2 separate regions of the Homo sapiens genome follow, and region 2 is linked to region 1. The links come from fine-mapping of genetic effects on gene expression. Tissue or cell type: whole blood. Region 1 holds a variant in brackets; the other region holds the start of a gene. All regions are shown on one strand. Distances are from middle to middle.

What was found. PIP is the estimated chance that this variant, and not a neighbour inherited with it, causes the effect. A credible set is the group of variants that fine-mapping cannot tell apart.
Region 2: SIKE1 starts here. The variant in region 1 is the best candidate, but not a certain one, in a credible set for the expression of SIKE1 in whole blood (INTERVAL, PIP 0.67).

What each region holds. Positions count from the first base shown.
Region 1 is chr1:114,801,411-114,812,413 of GRCh38, reverse strand. No RefSeq gene overlaps it. Among named protein-coding and RNA genes, the nearest start is that of SIKE1, 26 kb to the right of the region's middle. The variant C/A (reference allele first, on the strand shown) is at 6,160.
Region 2 is chr1:114,775,477-114,786,479 of GRCh38, reverse strand. It overlaps SIKE1 (suppressor of IKBKE 1), which reads left to right and starts at 5,795. Exons shown (of 5, transcript NM_025073.3): 1 at 5,795-6,031; 2 at 6,265-6,370; 3 at 7,196-7,338; 4 at 10,021-10,134. The coding sequence starts at 5,873. RefSeq lists enhancers at 5,413-5,532, 5,773-6,012, 5,477-6,042, 6,043-6,609.

The DNA of each region.
Region 1 (11,003 bases):
AGAGATTGGGCATTTTGGTCCACATTGCACATGAATTCAGAACAGATAAAGCAAGTATATTTGTCAGGATTATTCTTTTCAATATAAATGGAATATTTTGTGGGACTCCCAAATTTTTTCAGATGCACTGACTAAAATCTGTAAATACATGGTGTGCTTTATTCAATTAGGCATTAAAACCAAATTTATCAAATCATATAATTAAATGTTTATTCCAGTTAGTCAATTCTCATCTTATAAAATGTTTATTTTCTACTTAATATTAACAAAAATTAAAATTATTTAAATGTTTGCTGAAAAATCATTGAGGACAACTTAAAAATTATCAATAGATGTCAGGTACAGTGGCTAATGCCTGTAATCCCAGCACTTTGGGAGGCTGGGGTAGAAGGTTCACTTGAGGTCAGCAGTTCAAGAACAGGCTGGTCAACATAGTGAGATCTAGTCTCTACAAGAAAATTTTAAAAATTAGCCAGACATGGTGGCATATGTCTATACTCTCAACTACTCAGAAAGTTGAGGAGGGAGGATCACTTGAGCCCAGGAGGTTGAGGCTGCAATGAGCTATAATCACACCACTGCACTCCAGCCTGGGCAACACAGCGAGGCCCTTTCTAAAAAAACTATATACACATACACACACACACACACACACACACACACACACACGTATATATACATATATATACACATATATATACATATATACACATATATATACATATATACACATATATACATATATATACACATATATACACATATATATGTAGATATGTATTTTTTCAAGATTCTTGTAGAGAGTACACAAATACAAATGTGTAAGGAAGCGGTCATGCTCATCACTGAGTGTGAACAGTGACAGTAGTTTTATTTGACAAGCACTATTATTTAAAGTTTGTTTAATCTAAATGTCTTCAGGAAATGGGGATAGGGAGGAGCATGCTTTCTTGAATTCATCTTCACCACAGAGCCTGCCACTCCCTATTATTAGCACTTAGCTCAATAAACTTATTTATAATACCTGTATGCACCCCACCCCTCACCTTGGTCCTTTGAGTTTACAATTCCCATAAGGGAATAGTGTGCCTTTGTAATAATACAGGAAGGTAATTGTTGAGAGACAATTCTCCAAGTGTCTTACACATTTCTGCACTTACTTCCCTTTATTCATACTACCTTTTCAAAGATGTTTGAACAGCAAACAGCCCTCAAAGATGACATAGTGTCTCCCTCCATACCAAAAGGGAGACATGCTCACTAGCCTTAGGAAAAAGATTCAGGTTTCCTAAGCTCTGGATTTCTCTCCTGTCACAAACCCACTACATGTGCTTGTGTCACCTAGCCCCACTTTACATCATCCTCTGGTAATTATGGATTGGGGAACCAGTGCGAAAGTGCTGATACTCTGGCTATTGCTACTGTAGAGGGTGTAAACCAAAAGTATCTAAGATGGGTCTCAATCAATTTAGGAAGTTTATTTTGCCAAGGTTAAGGACACACCCATGACAGCCTCAGGAGATCCTAACGACATGTGCCCAAGATGGTCAGGGTACAGCTTGGTTTTATATTTTTTAGAAATGCATGAGACATCAATCAATACATGTAAGATGTACATTGGTTTGGTCCAGAAAGGTGGAACAACTAGAAGCAGGGGCTTCCAGGTCACGGGTAGATTTAAAGATTTTCTGATTGGTTGAAAGAGTTATTATCAATAGAAAGGAATGCCTGGGTTATGCTAAGGGGTTCTGAAAACCAAGGTTTATCATGCAGATGAGGCATCCAGATAGCAGGCTTCAAAGAGAATAAGCTGTAAATGTTTCTTATCAAACTTAAAGAGTGTGTTCTATCAGTAATTTCAAAAGGGAAAGGGGTATAATGAGGCATGTCTGGCTCCCCGTTACAATCATGGCCTGAACTAGTTTTTCAGGTTAACTTTGGAATACCCTTGCTAAGAGGAGGGTCCATTCAGATGGTGGGGGGCTTAGAATTTTATTTTTGGTTTACAAGAGTAATACATTTCCCTTAGTCTCTGCTTCAAGAGTTTCAAATATGGTTCCCTCTAATCTTTTTAAGTGGTCTTTGTCCAGCCTCATGCAGTTTTCTCACCTGCTTGTGCTCAAGCAAGTACCCATATATGAGTGTCTCCTTACAGTTTGTTGTCTAAGTATCTCCCTTGCCTCATCCTAAACCCAGCTCCGTCCATATCTCCAGAGCTCACTCTCTCTCTCTCACTCATTCTTGCTTTCTGTCTTGGTCTCACTGAAGCTTTTTCCTCTCTGGTACTCTGACTTGTGAACTCTGGGATGCCTGGGCCTCCCTCAGACCCCCAGTTTCTTCTCAACTCAGGGAGACCACTAGGCTCTGCCTGTGTAGCTCCTCTCCATGCCGTGCCCGGAATCTCTCTCTAGGTTGTCAATTGGGCAATCACAGGCCTCACCTTGTTTGTTTCCCCTCTCAGGATCACTTTCCAGTGCTACCTGATACACACTGTCTTGAAAATCATTGTTGCACATATATTTTGTGCAATTTTTTAGTTGGTTCAAAACAATTAAGCAGGCAGGAGGATAAATCAAGTCCTGGTTACCCCATTTTGGCTGAAGGTTGGAAGCAGAGGTCTTATGTTTTGATGGCATGTTTTGCTGTCCTTTTTTCTCTCTCTCACTCTCTCTCTTTTTCTGAGACAGGGTCTCACTCTGTCACCTAGGCTGGAGTGCAGTGGCAAGATCATAGCTCTGCAGTAGCAAACTCCTAGACTCAAGTGATCCTCCCTTCTCAGTCTCCTGAGTAGCTGGGACTACAGGTACTCACCACTGCACCTGGCTTACTGTCCATTTTAAGGCACAAAAGATGTTTAGTGGATGTTGGTACTTGGGCTGTCCAAAGCATAAGGCTCTAACAGTCTCAGACAGATGAACTGCCTTTAAGAGGTGCGGTTGCTACATGGCACTTTGGGCAGAGACTTCCCAGGAATCTGGACGGATACCTGTACAGAGTAAGGTGATATCTGTGGTAATGCCTGAAGAGTATCAGAGCAGGACTCATGCTTCCAGTACTATGGTCAGTTTTTCTACTTCTGCCTCACCATAGGATTGTTTTCATTGAGGTTTTTTTTTTTTTTTTTTTTTTGAGACAGAGTCTCATTCCGTTGATGAGGCTGGAATGCAGCAGCACGATCTCAGCTCACTGCAAACTCTGCCTCCTGGGTTCAAGTGATTCTCATGACTCAGCCTCCTGAGTAGCTGGGACTACAGGCATGCACCACCATGCCCAGCTAATTTTTGTATTTTTAGTAGAGACAGGGTTTTGGCATGTTGGCCAGGCTGGTCTTGAACTCCTGACCTCAAGTGATCTGCCCACCTCGGCCTCCTAAAGTGCCAGGATTACAGGCATGAGCCACTGTGCCCGACTGAGTCATTTCCTTTTTTTTTTTGAGATGGAGGCTCGCTCTGTCACCCAGACTAGAGTGCAGTGGTGTGATCTCAGCTCACTGCAACCTCCACCTCCAGGGTTCTATCGATTGTCCTGCCTCAGCCTCCCGAGTCACTGACACTACAGGCATGCAACACCATGCCTGGGTAATTTTTGTAGTTTTCATAGAGACAGGGTTTCACCATGTTGGTCAGGCTGGTCTTGAACTCCTGACCGTAGATGATCCACCCTGCCTCAGCCTCCCAAAGTGCTGAGATTACAGGCATGAGCCACTGCACCCAGCCATCATTTCTTAATAAACTGACACGTTCCACAGCTTAATTTTCTGTACTGTTTAATTTTGCAATCATCCCAAACAGACTGGTACAATCTATTTATGGTCCAGGCACTATAATTGTTTTTTTCTACATATTGCCTCTTTAGTTTTCACAAGCACCACATTACACAGGTACTGTGTTATTCTCATTTTACAGACGAGGAAACTGAGGCTCAGAAAAGTTAAATGACTTTTCCATCATCACATAGCTGGTAGGTGTGTTTACAATTAAAATGTATACACTTCTAACCTCATGTAATGGTTCAAGAAGAAATAAATTTACACGGGAGATAAACTGGACTATTCTTCTCAAAACACTGATCACAATATGTATGGCCATATGACCACAGGAAAGAAAGGGGCCTAACATGGAAATCATAATCCTCATGTTCTAGGAGTAACCTGTTGGGACTTCTTGACTTGTCCTTGAACATGGCCCATCTCATACAAGAGACCATCGAAAGAACTGGCAGAGTGAGTGCTACCAGGGGCAGAACAATGGCATAAATGTAAGACTAGCATTTAGGTCTCATCTACTGGGACATGCAACCATCCGTCAGGGAGAAGACCATGAAAATGGGCAAAAAGGAGTAGCTAGAGACAGAATTCCATGTGTATCTTGCAAATCCCAAAAGGCCAAGGAACTGCCCCATTAATTTTTAGCTCGATAAACCAAGTCAAGTTTCATAAAGGTATTCAAAACTACTAACTGAGTTAGAGGGGTTTAAACCTAGAATGAATCTCTGTTCCATGAGAGTGATAGAGTTTCAGAGGATACTTGCTTATCCAAGATATGCTAGAAAAAGCATTTCTTCAATAACTAAACATAGGAAGATAAAAGATCTTTAGACTCTGTGAAGAAATTCTCTGAGAGAGATCGCACTGAAGTCCCAAGGAAACACAAACATAAATAATCTCAGTAAATGGCTCAGTTGTGTTGTCTACAGCTTAAGCATACATTGTATTTCTTTCTCCTAGATAATTCAGAATTTTTTTTTCTTTTTTGAGACAGAGTCTTGCTCTATCACCCAGCCTGGAGTGATCACAGCTAACTGCAGCCCTGACCTCCAGGGCTCAAGCAATCCTCATCTCAGCCTCTCGAGTAGCTGGGGACGACAGGTGTGTGCCACCACGCCCAGCTTTTTTTTTTTCCCCTTAGAGATAGGGGTCTTCCTACCTTGCCCAGACTGGTCTCAAACTCCTAGTCTCAAGTGATCCCCGCACTTAGCCTCCCAAAGTGTTAGGATTACTGGCGTGTGCCACTACACCTGGCCTAAAATAATTGTTTAACAATTGAATTGAATTTCCACTACTCTTCCATCGATTATATTATATATTATTCCTTGAGTGAATTTTAAATGGCTAAGAAAATCTGATTAAATATTCCATATGTCAATGGTCGTTTAAATTTCAATGAATATACTAAACAACAATAATGTTGAATGAAATTAGTAATACTTTAAACTTTTAATAAAACTGTGTAAATTAATTACTTAAATGGTTAATGTTCTGAAAGTAAAGCTTAATGGGACATTTTTAAAAAGTAAATACCAGGGGAATCTTCTGGCAGGAAATCAAGAATAAAATCAATTCAAAGAAGTTCTGTTATTTTAATATGAGTAATATTACTGATAAGATGGCATAACAGCAGATTTTTATCATATAGTTTTTAAGGAATATCTGAACTGAAAATTTGAATCTCTTTTGGTCAAGGATGCCTTCTCTTTTTTAAATTCATACTAATTTAATAGTTGATTAGTATGAGTGAACTTACGATTATCACATTTGAAGAACATTTTAGAAAGTTTTAAAACACACCAATACCCTTTACTAGTAGTCATTTCATAAAATATTGTGAAGAATAAATGAGCAAATACCTGTAAATGCTTATCAGATGCCTAAGACATATAAAGTGTTCAATAAATGTTCATTATTGTTGTGATTGTTATTATTTAAGACATTTTTGTGCTTTTTGGTTGGAGATAGTAGGTTTAAGTTTTGTTACTACTTACTACTTTCATCTTATTTAACAAAGACGTGTCATCAAATCAAATTCACCAAAGAATCCCTATAGCACATTTTATGTTTTATTTTATTTCCTTATTTTACAGAGAGAGTCTTGCTGTGTCACCCAGGTAAGTGTGCAGTGGTGCAATCATAGCTCACTGCAACCTGGAACTCCTAGCCTCAAGCAATCCTCCTGCCTCAGCCTTCCCAGTAGCTACCACACCACCATGCCCAGTTACTCTTATGTATAGTTTTTTGCAGAGGCAGGGCCTTTGCTATATTGCCCAGGCTGGTCTCAAATTCCTGGCCTCAAGCAATTCTTCTGCCTTGGCTTACAGAGGCATATTGGGATTACAGGCATGAGCCACTGCACCTCGCCTTACGGCATGTTTTACAGGGAAAAA[C/A]AATGTCTAGTGATACTTGAAAAATGTTCACATTGTTTAGAAATTACATTATAATTATAAACCTTTATTAAAAACATATGCAACCTTGCAAATGGAAAAGCAGAAGCCTTGGCATCAGTCCAGTAGAGAAATTTGACTATACCACCACTATGAACCCATCCAGGAGTAACAAAGCTAACGTATAACCTTGCCAGTACTTCTCACACATACACAAACCACTCACAAATTTTTAAAAAGAAACGAAAAAAAATAAAGTAAGCATGCTTATCTAACCCAACTTTCCAATTTATTAAAAATTGAAGCCACTCTCTTCCTGGGAATTGTGGTTTATATTGTGTACAGAATTTTAAGATTTAGTGTATCTCTGGCTTTTGCCTTCACTCTCTCTTCAAGTCACCTATCTTCCACACTCATATTTATGGATGTTCTAAGGAATGCATCACATGTGACAACAAAAATGACTGGTCAAAAATTATCTGGAATTCTTGTTGTTTAGCCTCGTCTATCTCACTAAAATAGTGATCTCTACTCGCTACCTTCTACTGCATGGGACTGCCTTTGTTAAGCACCAGTGCCACATCAGGTGGATATCACCCTATCCACGAAATACCATATCCCTAGGTCCACTGCCACCTTCTTTGAGTGGGTACCATGACTAATTCCCAAAGGTCTCACTCTCTTCCACCTCTAGTACCACAATCTGCCTTTAAGAAGCTGAGCCATGCTACAGAAAATGTAAAATCATAGGGATTGTGCTATGACAAAAGTATAATTTCTAATTTTAGTTAGACCCTTAACACCCCTCATCAATCTTTAACCATTGTTACCTCTCCTTCTATAGCAGATTGCAAAAATGGCCATGCATTGCTCCCCCTCCCCCCTCCCCCTCCCCCTCCCTCTCCCTCTCCCCACGGTCTCCCTCTCCCTCTCTTTCCACGGTCTCCCTCTGATGCTGAGCCGAAGCTGGACTGTACTGCTGCCATCTCGGCTCACTGCAACCTCCCTGCCTGCTTCTCCTGCATCAGCCTGCCGAGTGCCTGCGATTGCAGGTGCGCGCCGCCACGCCCGACTGGTTTTCGTATTTTTTTGGTGGAGACGGGGTTTCGCTGTGTTGGCCGGGCTGGTCTCCAGCTCCTAACCGCGAGTGATCTGCCAGCGTCCACCTCCCGAGGTGCCGGGATTGCAGACGGAGTCTGGTTCACTCAGTGCTCAATGGTGCCCAGGCTGGAGTGCAGTGGCGTGATCTCGGCTCGCTACAACCTCCACCTCCCAGCCGCCTGCCCTGGCCTCCCAAAGTGCCGAGATTGCAGCCTCTGCCCAGCCGCCACCCCGTCTGGGAAGTGAGGAGCATCTCTGCCTGGCCGCCCATCATCTGGGATGTGAGGAGCCCCTCTGCCTGGCTGCCCAGTCTGGGAAGTGAGGAGCGCCTCTTCCCGGCCGCCATCCTGTCTAGGAAGTGAGGAGCGTCTCTGCCCTGCTGCCCATCGTCTGAGATGTGGGGAGCGCCTCTGCCCCTCCGCCTCGTCTGGGATGTGAGGAGCGCCTCTGCCCGGCCGCGACCCCGTCTGGGAGGTGAGGAGCGTCTCTGCCCGGCCACCCCATCTGAGAAGTGAGGAGCCCCTCCGCCCGGCAGCCGCCCTGTCTGGGAAGTGAGGAGCGTCTCCGCCTGGCAGCCTCCCCGTCCGGGAGGTGGGGGGCAGCCCCCGCCCGGCCAGCCGCCCCTTCCGGGAGGGAGGCGGTGGGGAGGGGGGGCAGCCCTCGCCCGCCAGCCGCCCCGTCCAGGAGGGAGGCGGGGGCGGCAGCCCCCGCCCGGCCAGCCTCCCCGTCCGGGAGGTGGGGGGCGCCTCTGCCCAGCTGCCCCTTCTGGGAAGTGAGGAGCCCCTCTGCCCGGCCACCACCTCGTCTGGGAGGTGTACCCAACAGCTCATTGAGAATGGGCCATGATGACGATGGCGGTTTTGTCGAATAGAAAAGGGGGAAATGTGGGGAAAAGATAGAGAAATCAGATTGTTGCTGTGTCTGTGTAGAAAGAAGTAGACATAGGAGACTCCATTTTGTTCTGTACTAAGAAAAATTCTTCTGCCTTGGGATGCTGTTGATCTATGACCTTACCCCAACCCGGTGCTCTCTGAAACATGTGCTGTGTCCACTCAGGGTTAAATGGATTAAGGGCGGTGCAAGATGTGCTTTGTTAAACAGATGCTTGAAGGCAGCATGCTCATTAAGAGTCATCACCACTCCCTAATCTCAAGTACCCAGGGACACAAACACTGCGGAAGGCCGCAGGGTCCTCTGCCTAGGAAAACCAGAGACCTTTGTTCACTTGTTTATCTGCTGACCTTCCCTCCACTATTGTCCTATGACCCTGCCAAATCCCCCTCTGCAAGAAACACCCAAGAATGATCAATTAAAAAAAATAAAAAAAGACCTTGGGAAATACAATTCTAAGTCTTAACATTTTGCATATGTTGTTAAATGTCCACGATTCATAGCAAATGAGATCTATTTACTGGGAGTAATCTTCCCGATATGGCCATCTAAACTTGGTTCTCCATCAGATATATTCTTGGGAAATTACAATTGTTTTTTCCAACAAGTAGACACTTGTTTACCTTCTAGGTTTGTGGAAGGCATGAAGTCCTTTAATAGTACCATTTTTTTTTTCTTATTTAATATTTACTGTCATATATGTTTGCATGATTAAAAGGAGGCATTAAAAAAAAATGGCCATGCATTCTTTCCCTGCCCTAAAGAAGTGGGATTTATTTCTCCACACCATGCTTCTTAAAGTAGGGGATTTGAAATAATAATAATAATAATAAATATTTCACTACTTTTTGAATGCAGGTTGACCACAGGATTTGCTTTGGCCAATGAAACATTTTGGCATATATGAGCAAGCAGAGATTTAAAAAACAGTTGCATGTTGGAACTTAGAATGATCTCGTAATCCTGTAGCCATGTGAACAAGCCGGGGCTAGCCTGATACAGGATGAGAGACACAGGATTCAGTCACCCTCATCACCACAGTTGACAGCCAGCCTACCACCAGACAGACATGTGAGTGAATCATTCCAGGACCAACTAGACTCAGCCAACCAACAAATCACAAACCAGAATCAGATGAACCTGACCCAGACCAAAACTATCCAGCAGGTTCATGAACAAAATAAATGGTTTTTGTTTCAAGCCACTACGTTTTGGAGTAGTTTATTATGCAACAATAGATTAATGATACACCCTCTGACTCCCTTCAGTAATTATTCTAAACATTTGCATCATTCAGTGACTGCTCCTACTCTCATCCTTAGCACCTAACTTTATCTCCTTTTTTGATGGGTAAAACAGACACACTAAACTTCCCACACTTTCCTAACAGCACACTATAGCATAGTGGTAAAGAGAACTGCTTTTGAAGCCAGATTCCCTGCTCTTCTCTTGGCTCTGAGCACATAGAAGCTGTAAGACCTAGAGAAAATTACACAACTTCACTGCATCTCATGTTTCTTCTCTGTAAAAGTAGGGATAATGATAATATCTACCTCATAGAGCTGTTGCGAGAATTATAAATGAAGAGTTTAGATCATTATATTGTATACAGTGAATGCTATGTAAACTATTATTTTTATTGTGCACTGGCCAGTGATCCAGAGCTTAATGTTTTTAACAGTTTTACTTACATACCATACTTACATGTAAGTAAATACTTATATATAATATATATGTTATATATATATAAAATATATATATGTAAATAAATACTTATATATTCACATATTATGAAATTCACACATTTAAACTATATGTTTCAGACCAGACGCAGTGGCTCATGCCTGTAATCCCAGCAATTTGGGAGGCCGAAGCAAGTGGATCATCTGAGATCAGGAGTTCGAGACCAGCCTGGCTAACATGGAAATTTCATCTCTACTAAAAATACAAAAAATTAGCCAAGCATGGCAGCACGTGCCTGTAGTCCCAGCTACTTGGGAGGCTGAGCCAGGAGAATTGCTTGAACCTGGGAGGTGGAGGTTGCAGTGAGCCAAGATCACACCACTGCACTCCAGCCTGGGCAACAGAGTGAGAGGATCTCAAAATATATATATAAATAAATAAAATAAAGTACATGATAAAATATACGTTTCAGTGTTTTTTAATATATTCAGAGTTGTACAACCATCACCACTATCTAATTTTAGAGAATTTTTATCAACCCAAACACACCTTGATTTTGAGACCTGAAGTCCTAAGGTGGATCTGAGACAACTCCTTGGGAAAAGGCCAAGAATACAACAGGGAAGATCAAATATGAATGCTGGTCCGATGAACAAGAGCAGAACTGTAAACAAGAGATGAAGCCAAGAATCAGAGTCAGATGGTAATATGGTTAGATATATTTTAACTAATAGTGAAAAGCGGGAGAGGATAGGACACAAGCAGCATCAGACCGTCTACAGCTAACATTATCATGTATGCCAGACTGACTTAAAGATGTGGAATCAGGGGAAGCTCCTCACTCCCCACATTCAGGTCTACCCTGCCAAGGCTGGCAAATCAAGGGTTTGCCCCAGATCTTTGCCCTCTAAAAGGTCCTAACATATCTTGGTATGCCTTAGTCAAGTTTCTTTGGGTTACAAGTATAACCTTCAAACATCCCCCAAGTTCGGAATCAAGGGGATTGCTTTTCTCTTTAATGTTCTATTAACATAGTCTTTTTTATTGTTGTTTTGTTTTTTGAGTCAGGGTCTCACCTCTAACACCCAGGCTAGAGTGCAGTGGCATGATCATAGTTCACTGCAGCTTCAATTTCCTGGGCTCAAGCGATCCTCCCACCTCAGCCTCCCTAG
Region 2 (11,003 bases), 26 kb after region 1:
TAAGAGCTATTTATGACAAACCCATACTCAATATCGTACTGAATGGGCAAAGCTGGAAGCATTCCCCTTGAAAACCGGCACAAGACAAGGATGCCCTCTCTCACTACTCTATTCAACATAGTATTGGAAGTTCAGGCAAGGGCAATCAGGCAAAAGAAAGAATACAGGGTATTCAAATAGGAAGAGAGGAAGTCAAATTTTCTGTGTCTGCAAAAGACATGATTGTATATCTACAAAACCCTATCATCTCAGCTCAAAAACTCTTCAAGCTTATAAGCAACTTCAGCAAAGTCTCAGGATACAAAATCAATATGCAAAAATCACAAGCATTTCTATATACCAATAATAGACAAGCAGAGAGCCAAATCATGAGTGAACTCCCATTAACAATAGCTACAAAAAGAATAAAATACCTAGGAATACAACTTACAAGGGACCTGAAGGACCTCTTCAAGGAGAACTACAAACCACTGCTCAAGGAAATAAGGGAGGACACAAACAAATAGGAAAAAAAAATTCCATGCTCATGGATAGGAAGAATTGGTATCATGAAAATGGCCATACTATCCAAAGTAATTTATAGATTCACTGCTATTCCCATCAAGCTACCATTGACTTTCTTCACAGAACTAGAAAAAACTACTTTAGATTTCATATGGAACCAAAAAAGAGCCCATATAGCCAAGACAATCCTAAGCAAAAGAACAAAGCTGGAGGCATCACACTACCTGATTTCAAACTATACTACAAGGCTACAGTAACCAAAACAGCATGGTACTGATAGCAACACAGATATATAGACCAATGGAACAGAACAGAGGCCTCAGAAATAACACCACACATCTACAACCATCTGATCTTCGGCAAACCTGACAAAAACAAGCAATGGGGAAAGGATTCCCTACTTAATAAATGGTGATGGGAAAACTGGCTAGCCATATGCAGAAAACAGAAACTGGGCCCCTTCCTTATGCCTTAAACAAAAATTAACTCAAGGTGGATTAAAGACTTAAACATAAAACCTAAAACCATAAAAACCCTAGAAGAAAACCTAAGTAATATCATTCAGGACATAGGCATGGGCAAAGACTTCAAGTCTAAAACACCAAAAGCAATTTCAGCCGCAGCCAAAATTGACAAATGGGATCTAATTAAACTAAGAGCTTCTGCTCAGCAAAAGAAACTATCGTCAGTGTGAACAGGCAACCTACAGAATGGGAGAAAATTTTTGCAATCTATCCGTCTGACAAAGGGCTAAACTCCAGAATCTAAAAGGAACTTAAACAAATTTACAAGAAAAAAAAAACCCAATCAAAAAGTGGCAAAGGATATGAACAGACACTTCTCAAAAGAAGACATTTATACCTGGTGTGGTGGCTTACGCCTGTAATCCCAGCACTTTGGGAGGCTGAGGCGGACGGATCATGAGGTCAGGAGATCAAGACCATCCTGGCTAACACTGTGAAAGCTCATCTCTACTAAAAATACAAAAAAAAAAAAAAATTAGCCAGGCGTGGTTGTGAGCGCCTGCAGTCCCAGCTACTCTGGAGGCTGAGGGAGGAGAATGGCGTGAACCCGGGAGGCGGAGCTTGCAGTGAGCCGAGATCGTACCACTGCTCTCCAGCCTGGGGGACAGTGCAAGACTCTCTCTCAAAAAAAAAAAAAGAAGACATTTATGGGGCCAACAAACATATAAAAAAAACCTCATCATTACTGGTCATTAGAGAAATGCAAATCAAAACCACAATCAGATACCATTTTATGCCAGTTAGAATGGCAATCATTAAAAACTCAGGAAACAACAGATGCTGGTGAGGATGTGAAGAAATAGGAACGCTTTTACACTGTTGGTGGGAGTGTAAATTAGTTCAACCATTGTGGAAGACAGTATGGCGATTCCTCAAGGATCTAGAACCAGAAATTCCATCTGACCCAGCAATCCCATTACTGGGTATATACCAAAAGGATTATAAATCATTCCAAAGGATTATAAATCATGCACACGTATGTTTATTGCAGCACTATTTACAATAGCAAAAATTTGGAACCAACCCAAATGCCCATCAACGATAGACTGGATAAAGAAAATGTGGCATATATACACTATGGAATACTATGGAGCCATAAAAAAGAATGAGTTCAGCCGGGCACAGTGGCTCACGCCTATAATCCTAGGACTTTGGGAGGCTGAGGCGGGCAGATCACCTGAGGTTGGGAGTTTGAGACAAGCCTGACTAACATGGAGACACCCCATCTCTACTAAAAATATAAAATTAGCCAGGCTTGGTGGCACATGCCTGTAATCCCAAATACTTGGGAGGCTGAGGCAGGAGAATCGCTTGAACCTAGGAGACAGTGGTTGCAGTGTGCCGAGATCGCACCATTGCACTCCAGCCTGGACAACAAGAGTGAAACTCTGTCTCAAAAAGAAAAAAAAAAAAAAAAGAATGAGTTCATGTCCTTTGCAGGGACATGGATGAACCTGGAAACCATCACCCTCAGCAAACTAACACAGGAACAGAAAACCAAACACCAAATGTTCTCACTCATAAGTGGGAGTTGAACGATAAGAACGCATGGACAAAGGGAGGGGAACATCTCACACCCGGGCCTGTTGGGGGGTGGGGGGCAGGGGGAGGGAGAGCATTAGGACAAATACCTAATGCATGTGGGGCTTAAAACCTAGATGATGGGTTGATAGGTACAGCAAACCACCATGGCACATGTATACCTATGTAACAAACCTACATGTTCTGCACATGTATCCCAGAACTTAAAGTAAAATAAAAATAAAAATAATGAATGATTCCCTAGGTTTAAATAAGGTTTTCCTAAGGTGTTGGTTTACTCTTAATGAAATTAAAGGAAATTTTGCTTTTTAATTCTATCACCTATTTTTTTTTAAAACTTCTCAGATTCATATCTCAGAAGTTCAGCTTTTGTTGTGTCTGGCTGTTTTCAGTTTTTTCCTCCCTTTGAAAAGGACACTCTCCTTCAACTTTTTCCATCAGCTCCTCTAATTCTTTTTCCTCTGATTCTAACTGTTGGGGCCTGATGCTGAAATGTTTTATCTTAGAAGTCTATAAAAGCAGTGTTTTCCTCCAATATAACTTGATTCTGTACTCCCGGCTTTTCTTGATATGTGATTTTCGTTGTAATCAGGAAACTTCTCACGCAATTGCTCAGAGAGATGTATTCCCTTGCTATACTCATAAGCATGAATACACTCTTCTTGTGTCTGATTAAATTCAAGCACTTTTTTCAAGTATGACTTTCAGGTTACCTACATGGTCTTCCCATAAGGAGAAGCAGTCACACAGCAGAAGGGGTTTTTTGCCTGTGTAGTAACTTGCTTAAGAAACAAGATTTTAATGTTTTATCAAATAATTCCCATGCTCTCTTTAATGGGTTTTTAATTGCCTAGAAAAACTGAGATTTAAAAGGGTTCAGGTTTTTATGTCCTGGTAACCTTCTCAATTGCCTTTAAAGTCTTTAATTATCAGTTTGGTTAAATGAGTAACTATTATTTTTACAATGAATATTATCTTGTTTTGATCAAATGTTTTGAGGCTTTTAAAATCTTTGACCAATGTCCTCAAAATCAAAATCGTAAATTAAGTCTCTGACTTATTGCTGGGGTTTATCGAAGCTATAAAAATTAATCACTGCAAGGTTGTAAAATATTTTTACAGCTTCCAGTCAGGTCATAGACTCCGGTATCACACCTCCAGCTCCTTGAAAAGGTCCTTATCAGGTGATATTAACTAATCCTTGTGCTTTTAAGTTATAGGGACTTACACATATCTCATCCAAAGAAGGCATCAACTCCTGCCAGTATCTGACACTAAACTGCAATTAACCAAAGCCTCATCGTTAGACTCAGGCAAAGGCGACAAAGTAAACTGCTTTCATGAGACACAGGGACAGTCTTGTGTTCAAAAATATTAAGATTCATTTAACAATTCTGCCTCTATCTGAATTAATATAATTTATTCTGTGCCTTGATACTAAATAATTTAAGTGTTTAGCTACCTATGAACTTCTTTTCCTGTTATTCTCAAAACTAGGCAGGGTTTATGACCTTTGTGTTTGAAATGTTGTTAATTCTTTCTGTTTTGTTTTACCTACAAAAGTTGAAACTCTTCAATCCCGCCATGCCTAGAGACTATAACGTAATGTTGTAAGGGCCAGTATTGAGAGCTAAAATTAGTTCAGACCCTACAAATCAAGGATGACACAGATGCCAAAACAGCTAAACAAAATGCTTGCATTTTGTATAGCTAATTGCAACAAGCCAAGATTACAGCAGCTCAATGCATAGAATTTATAGATAAGTCAATTTTGTAACCCTTGCCTTTTGGTTTTTGCCTCTTAACATTGCTTAAGAGGGGTTTTAAGGTTAATGAGTGCCTGCCCACCTCCTTCCCATCTGACCTAGAACGTTTAATTGGCTGTAACTCTTTTGACTCTAAGTCAGTTGGCCGCAGGAGGGACATGATGGACTCAGGGCAGGTAGCACACCACCCTGGCATTGATATGGGACAAAATTAAAGTTTGGACACTGATACTGTCTCTGGGATACCTTGACCAAAAAAAAAAAAAAAGTGGAATGCTGTTTTGAAGGCATGAGCCTAGCCATTCCCCATCTGCGAGCATTTGATTAGTAAAGCTTTCACCACAGGTCACTTCTCATGTTTTTGGCCTCTAGGCAGCAAGCAGCCAGACGTGAGCCAGTTGCAATAGCAGCATTATTGACAATAGCAAAAGGTGGAAGCAACCCAACTGTCCATCCACGGATGAATGGATAAACAAAACGTGGTATATATATATTATTCAGCCTTAAAAAGGAAGGAAATTCTAACATATGCTACTATATGGATGAAACTCGTGGACATTACACTAAGTGAAATAAGGCAGTTATATAAATACAAATGCTGTATGATTTCACTCATGTCAGGTACCCAGAATAGTCAGATTTGTAGAGACACAAAGTAGAATGGTGGCTGCCAGGAGCTGGGGATAAGGAAGAATGAGGAATTATTGTTTAATGAGTACAGAACTTCAGTACTGCAAGATGAAAGAGTTCTAGAGATGGATGCTGATGGTGGCTGTATAACAATATGAATGTACAACTGAACTGTACACTTATAAATGGCTGAGATATTAAATTTTATGTGTATTTTGCCACAATTTAAAAAAAATTAAATGAAAGTAGGCCAGGCGCGGGGGCTCACACCTGTAATCCCAGCACTTTGGGAGGCCGAGGCGGGCGGATCACTTGAGGTCAGGAGTTCGAAACCGGCCTGGCCAACATGTGAAACCCCGTTTCTACTAAAAATAGAAAAATCAGCCGGCGTGGTGGCGCATGCCTGTAATCCCAGCTACTCGAGAGGCTGAGGCAGGAGAATCGCTTGAACCCTGGAGGCAGAGGTTGCAATGAGCCAAGATCGCGCCACTGCACTCCAGCCTGGACAAGAGCAAGATTCCGTCTCAAAAAAGAAAAAAATAATGAAAATAAAAAGAAACTAACTGTGACTGAAGAACAACCCACATCAATGAAAACCAGTAGGGAAAGGAGACCTTCCCACTGCCCAGCTAATCATAGCCTGACCACCAGGCTGTGGTAACTGGAAACCAACGGCGTGGCAAGTGTAGGTCTGGGGCTCCGCGCAAGGAAGGACTGCAAGGAAGCCGCAGGTTAAAGCGGGTCAACCCGCAAAATAGGCTGCCACTGCGCAGGCGCCCATTGCGCCTACCAAGACACCTTGTAAACGTGCCCGGAAATGACGCCTGTAATGCTGAGACAGACTCCCAGAAGATCTGAGCGAGTCGCGTAGCTGAGCCCGGCAGGGGCTGGGGTGGTGCTGCTGCTATGAGCTGCACCATCGAGAAGATCCTGACAGACGCCAAGACGCTGCTGGAGAGGCTACGGGAGCACGATGCGGCCGCCGAGTCGCTGGTGGATCAGTCGGCGGCGCTGCACCGGCGGGTAGCAGCTATGCGGGAGGCGGGGACAGCGCTTCCGGACCAGGTCAGGCAGAGGGTAGGAGTCCAGTGCTCTCGGATTCTGGGCACTGAAGGGTGGAGAGCGAGGTAAAGTGGGAACTCGGCCTGGAATTTATTCCCGGTCTCAGAGGGCGGCGGTGAGACCATTTTCCTGGGTCGGGGCTGAGAATCCTGCCCTGGAGCCCTAACTTCTGCCTCTTCAGTTGCATCTGCCGCTGTTCTCTTTAAGGCATGCTTAGTCTGTCTCTATTTGTCCAGTATCAAGAGGATGCATCCGATATGAAGGACATGTCCAAATACAAACCTCACATTCTGCTGTCCCAAGAGAACACACAGATTAGAGACTTGCAACAGGAAAACAGAGGTTAGTCAGGCCTTTTCATATCTGGTAATAGTTTAAAGTTATTGCAAAATTGCCCTAAACATTTACAAAAGTGTACATATATTTCCAGGTCAGTACTTTTAGTAGGAGAGTCCTCCTGATCTGGCCCAGTAACAATAAAGTTTGTTAGATTACCCTTTTCAAGGTCATCTGACTAATATTGCAGCAGCTTACCAAAGAGGTGCTGTGTAGAGTTGGTATTATTGCATGGTTTATTTTTAAGCATCCTCAGATGTGTAACAAAAGAGTTCATAGCCTCATGGACTTAAAATTTAATGTTTAAGTATTAATATAAACACTGAAGGTAAGATTTAAGGTTTTGTTTATGTTCTTGTTTGTGCAAGGTGAAGCAGCAGAATTTTATTCTAAGGGTATATATTCTTAGGCTTGATTAGTACATTATTAATGATTGTGGTATTAATAGTTGTTTACCAGAGGGGTTTCACATATATCATTCTACTGTATTCTCATATCTTCATTTTTATCTACCACAATGCAGTTAAGAAATAGGCTCAGAAGAAGCTAAATGATTTACTTATGAGTATTAACCAAGCAAGTTACAGAACTGAACTCAAACACATGTCTTCTGATGATACATCCATTGTTGTTTCTGCAAGACTTTGCTTCTCTGCCTAGAAAGTTACCTTTCACATAGACTTTAACTGTTCAGTTTTGCGGACTTAAACATTGATTTACAACTTTAGATTCATATTATCTATATAGTGTTACAAAATTCCAACTGTTAAGACTTTGGATTTGGGAACTGTCTCTCAGACATCACTGCCAAGTTCTTTTATTTTTTGACAGAGCTATGGATTTCCTTGGAGGAACACCAGGATGCTTTGGAACTTATCATGAGCAAATATCGGAAACAGATGTTACAGTTAATGGTTGCTAAAAAAGCGGTGGATGCTGAACCAGTCCTGAAAGCTCACCAGTCTCACTCTGCAGTAAGAAACTTTGAATAAATTCGAAATGAACCAAATTGAAATCTTGAGATTGTTTTAGATTGTGTGCTTGTTTTTTTGCTTTGTGAGATAGGGTCTGGCTCTTGTCGACCAGGCCGTGGTGTAATGGCACGATCTCGGCTCACTGCAACCTCTGCCTCCTGGGCTCAAGCCATCGTCTCACCTCTGCCTCCGGAGCAGCTGGGACTACAGGTGCACACCACCACGCCCTGTTAATTTTTGTGGGGTTGTTTGTTTGTTTGTTTGTTTGTTTGTTTTTTGGTAGAGATGACATTTCGCCATGTTGCCCAGGCTGGTCTGAAACTCCTGGGCTCAAGCGATCCACCCACGTTAGCCTTCCAAAGTGCTGGGATTATAGGCATGAACCACTGCGCCTGGCCATGTGTGCTTGTTTTTGAAGAAAAGTAAGCTCATTTTCCTTTCATGTTTATCACATTTGTTGTTTATTTTGCCATGGCTTTGTAAAGATATGAATAGAAAGAAGGAGGATAGGGGCTGCTCAGATCCTTTTATTTGAGTGGGACTAAGGTTCCCCCTCCCTCACCAAGATCTCTTTTGAAAATGTTCATTAATTCTTAGCGCTCCCACCAAACATAATGCCAGTTAGTGTTGAAGCTGCCTGGTAAACACTTGGTTGGTTATTACTTATACATTTAACTTAAGCTCCTTGCTTGTAAGGCGCATGAATTCACATTTTATTCCTAACATAGTACCTGACATACAGCAGGCAGTCAGTAAACCTTTTATAAACTGAACCACATAGTATCATACTATGTTGTTAGGGGAGAGAAGTATGGTTTTTTAAAAAAACAAACATGGCATAGTTTCTGTTCTTTGCTAATTTGGGAGACTCAGTAATTGTTCTTATGTTTATAGGTGCTTCATGGTTGTCATTGTACATTCTTGTGTACTGTATCATTTAATTCTAGATGTATAGGGTTGGAGCCTACTACTTCTGTGAGATGTAGTGAAATATAAGCTTCATCTTAAATTCCATTGAATGCATTTTACTGACTTAAAAGTTTTAGGAAACAGATATTTTAAATATTTGAATGGCTTTCATCTGGAAGAGAAAAATAGATTTTCTTCTCGTATGGAGGAAAAAACTTGAACCTTGAAAGAGACAGAGTTTACTCAGATAGATAAACTTTCTAAGTGATATGTCCAAAGATGGAATAAAGCACCTTGGAATGTAGTAAGCTTCCTGCCAGTAAAAGTATTCAAATTTAAGTTAAACAGCCACTTAGAGATAGTATCCAACATCCAATGGGTAGTTAAACTACAATTGATTTTTTTTTTCCATTTCAAATCTTTTTATTGGAGTGTGGACCTACTGGGGGATTGATGCACTGGACATAGATAATTTTCAGAAATGAAAATAACATTGCTTGCATCGAATCAGATTTCACCCACAAAAATGACTAAGGCCTTACCAGAGTTGGCATTGGATGAAACCTTAGTCCTTTATGGAAAGGGAATCATGTGGCCTTCTATTTCTGAAATAGACTAAAGATTACTCATTTATTCTCTGCAATTACAGCCATCAGATCCTTTGAAATCTTGGAAGGCATGAGATGATGACATGAGTGTAACACAAATCCATATTGAAGAGCCCAGTATTTTAAAATTCCCCATGTTCACATACCAAAGGGTTACTTATGAGCTGATGCATATCACAGATAACCATATGATTATCAACTTGATGTCTGGGCAAAGAGCGAAAACAGAAAATGCATTCTACTCTTCACTTCTTGGTTTTAAATATAAGAAACATTATATATATTTTAAAAAACTGTATTCCTTAGTAGTGGTATCAATAGAACATATACAACTGGAATGAGGATCCCCTTAAGGAGGCCTTTTTTTTGTTTGTTTTTTAAATAAGTTCTAGGGTACATGTGCAAAACGTGCAGGTTTGTTAACATATGTATACATGTGCCATGATGGTGTGCTGCACCCATTAACTCGTCCTTTACATTAGGTATTCCTCCTAATGCTATCCGTCCCCACTCCCCCAACCCTATGACAGGCCCCGGTGTGTGATGTTCCCCACCCTGTGTCCAAGTGTTCTCATTGTTCAATTCCCACCTATGAGTGAGAACATGCGGTGTTTGGTTTTCTGTCTTTGTGATAGTTTGCTCAGAATGATGGTTTCCAGCTTCATCCATGTCCCTACAAAGGACATGAACTCATCCTTTTTTATGGCTGCATAGTATTCCATGGTATATATGTGCCACATTTTCTTAATCCAGTCTATCATTGATGGACATTTGGGTTGGTTCCAAGTCTTTGCTATTGTGAATAGTGCCGCAATAAACATGTGTGCATGTGTCTTTATAGTAGCATGATTTACAATCCTTTGGGTATATACCCAGTAATGGGATTGCTGGGTCAAATGGTATTTCTAGTTCTAGATCCTTGAGGAATCACCACACTGTCTTCCACAATTGATTTTTTGAAAGAAAAAAAAAAAAATATCCGTGAATACAAGGTCACTTTACTATGGCTTCATGTCTGAGGACTAAAATTGTAGGGAAACTCCATTGTAACTTCTGTATCATAGATTAAATGAACTTTTAAAAATCGTAATGCACATGCTTTTACGTTCTTTATATCTACAGAACAGGTGATTTTTCCACCTTTGTTTCCTTAATATCTTCACAGGAAATTGAGAGTCAGATTGACAGAATCTGTGAAATGGGAGAAGTGATGAGGAAAGCAGTTCAGGTGGATGATGACCAGTTTTGTAAGATTCAGGAAAAATTAGCCCAATTAGAGGTAAGATTGTAGCTAATTTAGGTTCACAGTATTTCATAGTTTTCCGAGTCTGGAAGATATGCCATCACTATCCCATCACTGTAATATATTGATGTTTTCTGTGTGCTCATGATTTAAAATTAAAACTCCTCCTTCATACCCTTTTATACCCTTTTGAAGAAAGGAAATATAGTAAACAGCAATCAATGGAAATACCAACTATGTATTGGCAAGAACTTGAGGTATTATCATATGGGAAGGTAGAGGGAGTGGAGGGGAGAAGTTATATGTGAGATAAAATCCTTCATCTGCCATAATAAGAAGTGAAGTAGATAATGTCTAAAATTGATGATCAGGAAATAGCAGTATAAGCATATTATTTAGAATTACAGAATTAAATACCAAAAGAAATAGATAAAAGTGTTAAAAGTGGTTGCATTTGGGGTACAAAGCCAAAGAACTGCTTGTATAAGCCTTGTAGTCTTGATTTCTTAAAAGCTATGTTTATGTCATATTTTGATTAGAATAGGAATATGTTACAAAAAAAGTTCGGGGTATTAGTGTGCTCATAAAATTGTTAAGGAAAAACATTTCAACTTTGAGAGGCTGAGGTAAGTGAATTGCTTGAGCCCAAGAGTTCAAGAGCAGCTTGGGCAACATGGCGGAACCCTGTCTTTACAAAAAATACAGAAAATTAGCCAGGTGTGGTGGTGCACACCTGTAATCCCAGGTACTCAGAGGCTGAGGTGTGAGGATCACCTGAACCTGGGAAGTCAAGGCTGCAGTGAGCCACGATCATGCATGCCACTGCACTCCAACCGAGTGACAGAGTGAGACCCTGTCTCAAAAAAAAAAAAAAAAAAGCAAAGCATTTCAGTGAATGGTTTGAA